Regions from separate parts of the Homo sapiens genome. Here region 1 is linked to region 2. Evidence: fine-mapped expression QTL. A gene starts in region 2. The other region holds a variant in brackets. All regions are shown on one strand. Distances are from middle to middle. Region 1 overlaps ELOB (elongin B). Region 2 holds the start of SRRM2 (serine/arginine repetitive matrix 2).

Region 1 (4,000 bases), 22 kb after region 2:
CGGGAGGCGGAGCTTGCAGTAGCTGAGATCGCGCCACTGCACTCCAACCTGGGCGACACAGACTCCATCTCAAAAAAAAAAAATCAAACTAGACTATCTAGACTATTCCTCCCCTGCTGAAAACCATCCAGTGGCTTCCCATCATGACCTGAATACCACCAAGTCCTTGCCGTCTGTCTCTCCCTCTGCTTCCCACGCTCTGAGGCTCTGGCTCTCTATGTTCTTCTGTAAGTTCTTTCCTAACTCAGACCTTCGCACTTGCTGGTCCCAGCACTCGGAATGGCTGGCTGCTTCTGGACTTTCAGGGTCCAACTCAGGTCACCTCCTCAGATGAACCTCCAGTCCACGCACCCCCAAAAGTCAAGACATCCTGACACTCTGGGCGTAGGGGCACTTACCACTGGACAAACTGCCCTTTTGACTGGCTCCAGGAAGGCAAAGGCCTTCCCTGTCTTGTCCCTACTGTCACCCCAACACACAGCAAACAAACCCACAGCTTTTCTCCTGTGCTTTCTTCCAGCTAGGAGACCCATCTCTGCTTGGCTCAGGGTTCTCAACTGATCAGGCATCCCAGGGAAAGCTGGAATGCCTGATCACAGTTGTGGCGGTCACAAATGGGGAGGTGGGGTGCCCCAGCGCTATCTAGTGGGTAGAGGCCTGGGATACGGCTCCACGTGCTATGGTGCACAAGGCAACCCACACAGCAATCCAGCCCAATGTGCCCACTGTGCCGAGGTTCAGAAACTAATCCATCTTCCAAGCCACAAACCTGTGACAATTCGTGCCTTCACTACCTCCCTCATTCTTTTGTGATGAGCCGGGACAATGCCCTTTAACATTTGATTTGAAATACTCATCTCCTTGAGTGGTAAGCTTGGGGGAGGGGAGAGGCGGAGGGTGGGGCACCCATTCAAGGCCTGGGAACAACATGATGATGGGTTGAGCTGCACCCAGAAGTGTGTTTCTGCAAGCATTCCATGGGGAAGCAAAGAGCTGACAGCCCATGCTGTGCCCCCTATCAAGACAGCCATCACCTGCAAGAGGGATGATGTGACCTGGGCTCCGGAGTCACCACCACATTCCATGCCATATTAGGGGTTGTGGGAGAAAAACAAGTCACCTTCCTTAGCCTTGATTTTCTCATCTGCAAAATGGGTCTATCAGTATCTTCCAAGTCACAGCAAACCTCTAGGGGTACCACTGTTGAAATTAGAGAAAGGGACACTTCTGGGGGAACACAGCCCAGCTTCGGTTCACGAAGCAGACCAGATATGCTCTTGGCACTCCCTTGCTCTCTTCAGACAGGCACCCCTGGGCCAGGCACCGAGGCTCAGGCCTGTAATCCCAGCACTTTGGGAGGCTGGGATGTATGGATCGCCTGAGGTCAGGAGATTGAGACCAGCCTGACTAACATGGTGAAACCCCATCTCTACTAAAAACACAAAGATTAGCTGGGCGTGGTGGCACATGCCTGTAATCCCAGCTCCTCAGGCCACTGAGGCAAGAGAATCGCTTGAACCCGGGAGGCAGCGGCTGCAGTGGGCTGAGATGGCGCCACTGCACTCCAGCCTAGACAACGGAGTGCGACTCTGTCTCAGAAACAACAACAACAAAAATGCACCCATGTACAAGGCACGACCTGTGTCTATGCCAGCCCTGCACCTGACTCTTAACATCACCATCTGGGCAGAAAGAGCCCACAGAAAGGCTCTGAAGCTTCCCATCTGTTGGGCACTGGCAGCAGGCCAGACCTGGGGTGCATGAGGACTCAACACCACCTTGCTGTGAAGCCAGTCTCATCACACCCCTTTAAGGAGAAGGGAACACTGGGGCCAGGAGGGGCAGGAGGGCAAGGTAGCTGGCCAGAGGATATAGCTGCTGAGACTGAGGCCTAGCCTGAACTTATGGAACGGAAAGGTGGAGCTAGGACTCTACTCTTCCTCTTCAGCCTTTGCTATGTTCCCTTACAGGCAGAAAAATAAGAATTCCTTACAACTTTATCCAAGTTTTCTCAGCCATCCACACAGCTGCTGGGTCCACAGCTGTGAAAACACAGCTCTATAACCTCTCTTCAAGTTCCTAGAGACAAAATATTTTAAATCTCCCCTCCCTTTCTCTTGGGTGGAAGAAGATATCTTGGCGAGTAGTAAACCACTCCCTAATCCCCAGGTTTCTAAAGCTTGGGCAGGGGTGGGGTATGGCTGATGGAAGCCCAGGCTCTGGATCTGAATCCTAGATGTGGCAGTCCCAGCAGATGACCTAACCTCCCCAGGCTCACTTTACTGAACCTGAAAA[C/G]TGGCAAAATCCAAATCTCAGCCACACAGAGATGCAGAGGGTTTCGGTGATACATAGCATAGAGCCTGGTATGATGTCTGACTCCAGCAAGGGCCCGGCAGTCAGCATCCTAACCGTGGCTCCCTACGTGACTGCTGGTAAGCCTGTGTCCTCATCTGCAGAACACGGATGATGGTATGTGGACTTCCCAGGGCTACTGAGAGGATGAGACAGGGCAGTGGAAGCCACACACAGAGTAACATGCAGAGCACGGAGCCAGGCACTCACTCAGCCTCCTGTAAATGTGAGCTGGCTTCACAAAATAAGCTTTGGTTTCTGTAAGCATCTCATTTGGTTGCTTCTTTTTTAAAAAAAAAAAAATGAGGAAACAAACACATTGTGAAAGGATATTGCCAGCCCTTTAGGCACGAGGAAGACACTGCCCTGAAGGCTTCAACTCCAGGCTCCCTGATGACCTTCTTTGGAACAGTGTTCCCAACCTGCTTGGCTACCACCCAGCCCAGTGGGTGGTGGGCCTCTCACCTGCCCGGAAGGCCAGCCCCACTGTGGCTGGGGCCTGTGGCCGTGCTGTTTGACTGGTGAAGCCACACTCGCCCAGTGTCTTGCCATCATCCAAGAGTTGGTCATCCTGAGGAGAGAAGCAGGATCTTGGGAGAGGCCCTACATGGGGCAAGTCCCAAAGACTTCTGACCAGCAACTACACGGGAAGTCAGAGGAGGGAAGAGAGAGTTCCCTCAGTGTGGCCCAGGACCACCACGCTGCTTGACAAATACACAGATTCCAGGGTTATATCCAAGAACTTCTAAATCAAAACCTCCCAGGGTGGGACTTTAGAATCCGGTTTTATCCAAATTCTCCAGGCAAATCTAATTTGAGGAGCCACTGAGCTATCTGGAGATAGGCAGACCTGGCTTTCAATCCCAGCTCTGTCACCCTGGACTAGGCATTTGAACATTTTTTTATTTTAGAGACAGGGTCTCGCTATGTTGCCCAGGCATGCAGTGGCACAGACCCAACATAAGCGCTATCATAGCCCCCTCCAGCTTGGAACTCCTGGGCTCAAGCAATTCTCCTGCCTCAGCCTTCAGAGTAGCTGGGACTACAGGACCATGCCACCACGGCTGGCTGGTAGTTGAGCCTTTTGATGCAAAGTTTCCTCATCTGTAAACTAGGAATTACCAGAATTCTCAATTCGTAGGGCCACCAGAGGGTTTCAATGAGCTAGGAAGAAACATAAAGCACTAAGTAGACATGTGGCACACGGGACATGCACAGGCACGGTCATTTAATATTTGCTAAGTCCCAGTAGTTATGAGTGAGGAAAGGCCTTTAGAGACCATGGGAGCTGAGGCTCTGAGCCTGGAGCTAAAAGTCAGTTTCCCAGTTTCCAGCTCTAGAATCTGAACAATGCACTTGGGCGACAACCTCACAATGTTGGGAGACGTAAATCAGAGGCTGATGCATCTGACTCCCCAATGCAGACCCCAAACCCCAAGCCATTCTGACTGAATAATCTCAGTTCGTTTGCAAGGGGAAAGGGGGGCTTCTAGGACATCAGCAGGAGGTCGGGAGGTAATAACAAACGGTTGCTTGGTGAAGAACGAGTGGGACCTGACTTTCTTTGCATTCACTGAGTTCCCCACCCTCCACCCGAAGGAGTGTCCGGGGGGACAGCGTGATTCCGATGGGCCTGCGAAGAAGGGTG
Region 2 (4,515 bases):
GCAAACCATGTTTTGTCACTATTCACGGGCATTAAATGTGCTGACTCACGCACAAAACATTCCATAAAGAATATCAGTGGGGGTACAGGAAAGGGTCTCACTGGAGGTGCTGGGGTCTTTAACCAGAAAGGCAAAGCCTTTGCCACTTTACTATGCCACTCCAGAGTTGCGGCCGGCTTACAGAAGCACCGTCCATAGATGCAGAGTTCAGACACTCCAATCTGCGATCAGAGCTCCTGCAGGAGATGGGGGTGGTGGGGGGGAGGGTCTCCCGGCTCTAGCATCTGAGATAAGTACATCCTCCCACGGGCAAGTGAAAAACAAATCTTAAAGCCGGATACGGGCCGGGCGTGGTGGCTCACGCCTGTAATATCAGCACTTTGGGAGGCTGAGGTGGGCAGATCACCTGAGGTCAGGAAATCGAGACCAGCCTGACCAATATAGTGAAGCCCCGTCTTTACTAAAAATACAAAAATTAGCCAGGCGTGGTGGCACACGCCTGTAATCCCAGCTACTCGGAAGACTGAGACACGAGAATCACTTCAACCTGAGAGACAGGTTGCAGTGAGCCGACAACACACCATTGCACTCCAGCCTGGGTGACAAGTGCGAAACCACGTGAAAAAAGAAAGAACAACAACAACAACAAAAAACAAGGGCCAGATAGGGTGTCATGCACGGGTAGTCCCAGCTACTTGGGAGGCTGAGGTCGGAGGATCGCTTGAGCCCCAAATTCGAGAACAGCCTGGGCAAAACCCTGCCTCTTAAAAACACCCCCAAATCGTAATAACAAATATAAATCCTTGCACTCAAATGGACAGTTCATTACGTGGTACCGCGTCCTGTTGCGGATCAAGGCCACCTGAGTTGGTTAGGACAGCTAAGCGGGACGTCCAGGGCTGCTCGCCAGCGGTGGGTCTAGATATGAACTTGTGCTTGAGCAGCCCAGCGTCTTACAACTCTGCTGTGAGGACGGCTGGCTGATTATCAGGCCCAGAATCACGGGCTTAGAAACATTAACAGGAAGTACGGTACCGAAAAGTGGAAACTTTAAGGTGCTTATTATTTTCCTCCTGCCTTGTTCCTGTATGTGCCGCTTCACCGGTATCACGTCCTGGGTCTGGTGGGACCCCGGCCTGGCTGCCCTACCGGAAGCTAAGAAAACTCCTCCCCCAGGGGTGGCCGTCGGGCCTCAGCCCGGTCTACAGCGGGAGAACGTGGCCCATGCTACGGGTAACTGGTTGGGCCCCTGGTGCAGGTCTAGGGCCTGCAGCCAGGCTCGGGGCCTCCGGGGGTGCCCGCTGGCTGGGGTCTGAGGCGGCTTCTCTCGGGTACGGGAAGGCGGACTGCTGTGCAGCTGCGGGCTCGCTCGGGAAACCCAAAGTCACACGAAAGCGGCAGCACCACCGCGGCTGGGATATCGTCTCCCAACATGGGGAGACAAAATGGCCGCCACGCCCCGAGCCGAAATTACATCCGGGCTCCGCGACACGCCCGAACCACAACTCCCAGAATGCTCTGCATCGACAGCGGGAGACGAGACGCGCTCGGGCGTCGCTTTGCTGCCGCTAGGCCCTGTGCTCCTCCCCGCAGCGGAAGGCCTACGAATACGCGGTGTCTTACGTCGCTTCCTCCGTTCTTCGTTGCACTGGCCAACGGGACGCTTAGTCTTTCGGCAACGGGGTGAAACCTTCCTTGTGCCTGAAAAAACGGTACTTCGCGGTGTGGCTTCGGCGCCTGCGCAAAAGGCCGCGGGGCGCACTCCAGTTCCCGGCAGGCCCCGCGACGCGCGTTTGCGTGCTGACGCACGCAGTTAGTCGTGCTGACGTGCAGCGCGGCCCAGGCGGGGTGCGAGTGGCGCAGTTGGAGCCCGTTGCGGCCCCTGAGGAAGCGAGGAGGCGTCGGCGTCGGCTGAGGCGGGCGGACCGGCGAGGCGAGGCGGCGGCCCCAGGCCCGAGGGACTCGGGAGCTCGAGCAGCGGCGGCGGCAAGACCTCTCCCCCTCGGAGGCGGCGGGCGGAGGCGGCGGGTGAGAGGGTGAGGGAGCCAGCGAGCCGGGTGGGGGAGGGGCGGCGGCCCCGGCGCGAGGCCAAAGCGCGCGGAGAACTGCCCAGGCCGCCGAGCTCCTCCGCGCGCACGCGCGCTCGACGCCCTTCGCTGGCGCGGACGCCCTCGCCTCCCTTCCCCCTTCCCGCCGTTCCTGTCGCGCGCGGGCTTCACCCCCCCCCGCCCCTCCCCCATGACAACGGCGTTCGCAGCCGCCTGTACTCGGGTTCGCGAGCGCCCTTGGTGAGGGGGGAGGGCGCGCGCCTCGGCTTCACTCCTCCCCCCAACATGTGCCGCCGAGGTGGCCTTCCTGCAGCTGCCGTTTTCGGCCCTTAAGTGGCGGGGAAGGGGCGGCGGCGGGGGGCTTGCTCCTGGACCCTTGCCCCCGGTTCCAGATCTCCTTTCCTCGGGCTTCTCTTCGGCGTTGGGCTGCCCGTGTCGGGGGCCTCCCAGACTGCGGGACGCCGCGCAGCCCCCTCCCCCATTCCGCAAGGCCGAAAATAGGCCCCCGGCGCTGCGGGGAGGGCCTTGAACTTCGTGGGCCGGATTTAAATGGTTTAGGATTCCCGGCTATCAGCCTTTGAGTTGTTAGTGGCGGGGAGAAACCCCAAATCTTAAAAACTGTGAAGAAAGTGAACGTGTTCAGTTTACATTTGTAAGGTAGACCGTGCGTTCCCTTTTTACACTTTTTCAACGTCTCCCGAGAATTCGTGTTCAAACTAAGGAGGCTTTTGGAGACCTTCGTTGGGAAGAAAACGCCAGACTCATATATAAGTTTTCTGGTTGGTTTCAGGCGTTCTTTGGCACACAGCTCTTCTGAAGCTTGGTTTCCACTCGGCTTCAGTTAGGACGAATCTGGATCAGAATTTCAGAGTGTTGTGTTGTCTTTCATCCTAAGTGCGTGGGCTTAGGGCTCTTCTAAAGCTACTATTTTAGCTTTCTGGGTTCTTTGTGTCCACTCAGCCGCTCTGGAGCGCCCCGGTGCTGAGCTGGCTGTGCTTGCTGATGTCCATTTTTTTCGACAACCCTTGTCTCCCCTTTTTCTCCCCTTTTGGTACCGTTTTCTTTTTTGCATATTTTACTGTTGAATTCAAATATATCTTTCTACTTCATTGTTAGCTTACCACTCGGATAATTTCCCAACAGAAAAGGGTGTTTTTGTCTTCCTTTGTACTTTTTACTTTCTGCTTTTAACTTGGGTAACTTTTGCATATCCACTGTCTATGGCCCCCACTTTAAGAGTTTTGTAATATCGTTTGGTTTGGTGATTTGTGTGTGGTGTTGATCTTCCTACTTTCTGTGTCTTAACACACCCCTTAGATGCCGTGGGGTCGTCGTCTTTTTTTGTGGGGTGGACTAGGTGGCTCATTCCCTAAAAGTTCTCCGAAACATTGTGACCTAATATCCTTTGCTTAGCACCTACTGGTTTTTCTTTTTTTTTTTTTTCCGAGACGGAGTCTAGCTCTGTTGGCAGGCCGGAGTGCAGTGGCGCGATCTCGGCTCACTGCAACCTTCCGCCTCCCGGGTTCAAGCGATTCTCCTGCTTCAGCCTCTGGAGTTGCTGAGATTACAGGCAATCGCCGCCGCCCAGCTAATTTTTGTATTTTTGGTAGAGATGGAGTTTCACCGTGTTGGCCAGGCTGGTGTCAATCTCCTGATCTGGTGATCCGCCCACCTCGGCCTCCCAAAGTGCAGGTGTTACAGGCGTGAGCCACCGTACCCGGCCTGGTTTTCCTTTCTTAAGGAGTGGGGGGATTTTTGTGTGAGGTGGTATGGAAGTGTGGGTGAATGGTTAAGCTGAAGAATTAAGTGCAGGTCAAAAACATGCTGCAGGGGAAGCAGAAATTAAGTGGGGTAGGGGAGAGGCGAAGAAGGACCTAGTTTTAAACCGTGAGGAGGATTGGTACTAGAAGATGAAAATGAGGATTGGGGTGTAGAGAAATTGATTTTTTGAGCCATACAGTTTTTCATTTTTTCCTGGATTTCTGCTTGCCTTATCCAGGTTTAGCCTCTTCTGTCACCTTCTGCTTTCAATATTGGGTCTGCTACTGGGCTTGGGTAGGGACCCATCCTTAGGCGCATGCGCTAGTATATTTTTCCAAACATTTGTATGATGCTTCTTCATTCTGGAATTTTCTAAATGCATCCTTCCCTTCTATCCAGTTCTTTTACATCTTTGATTACTCTCTCCGCTTTACGTATTCCTTAGGGTTTTTTCTTAGTAGTATTTTCTCATATATGCATGTTCTAGGAAACTATCTTGGAGAGGATGAGGGTGAGAAAGAGAGTATATGTAATAGGAGAAAGGAATAGAGTATGTGTAGCCAAGGAATCTAACCAGGAAAGCTGGGACTTGAGAATTTTTCAGAATCACGTTAGGGTTGGGACAAGTTGAAAGGCTAGAACCTGGGAGGAGGCATGGGGTTAACACAGGAGAGAAGGAAGAGGCAGGGCTGAGAGAGAAAAACTA

The links. PIP is the estimated chance that this variant, and not a neighbour inherited with it, causes the effect.
Region 1: its variant is the best candidate, but not a certain one, in a credible set for the expression of SRRM2 in whole blood (TOPMed, PIP 0.54).

What each region holds. Positions count from the first base shown.
Region 1 is chr16:2,772,634-2,776,633 of GRCh38, forward strand. ELOB (elongin B) reads right to left here. Exons shown (of 4, transcript NM_007108.4): 3 at 2,818-2,923. Among named protein-coding and RNA genes, the nearest start is that of ELOB, 2.6 kb to the right of the region's middle. RefSeq lists a silencer at 436-588. The variant C/G (reference allele first, on the strand shown) is at 2,296.
Region 2 is chr16:2,750,819-2,755,333 of GRCh38, forward strand. It overlaps SRRM2 (serine/arginine repetitive matrix 2), which reads left to right and starts at 1,820. Exons shown (of 15, transcript NM_016333.4): 1 at 1,820-2,028. It overlaps SRRM2-AS1 (SRRM2 antisense RNA 1), which reads right to left and starts at 1,782. Exons shown (of 6, transcript NR_027275.1): 1 at 1,624-1,782. RefSeq lists enhancers at 700-1,542, 1,142-1,311, 1,372-1,661, 1,543-2,385, 2,386-3,228 and silencers at 1,842-2,151, 2,172-2,231.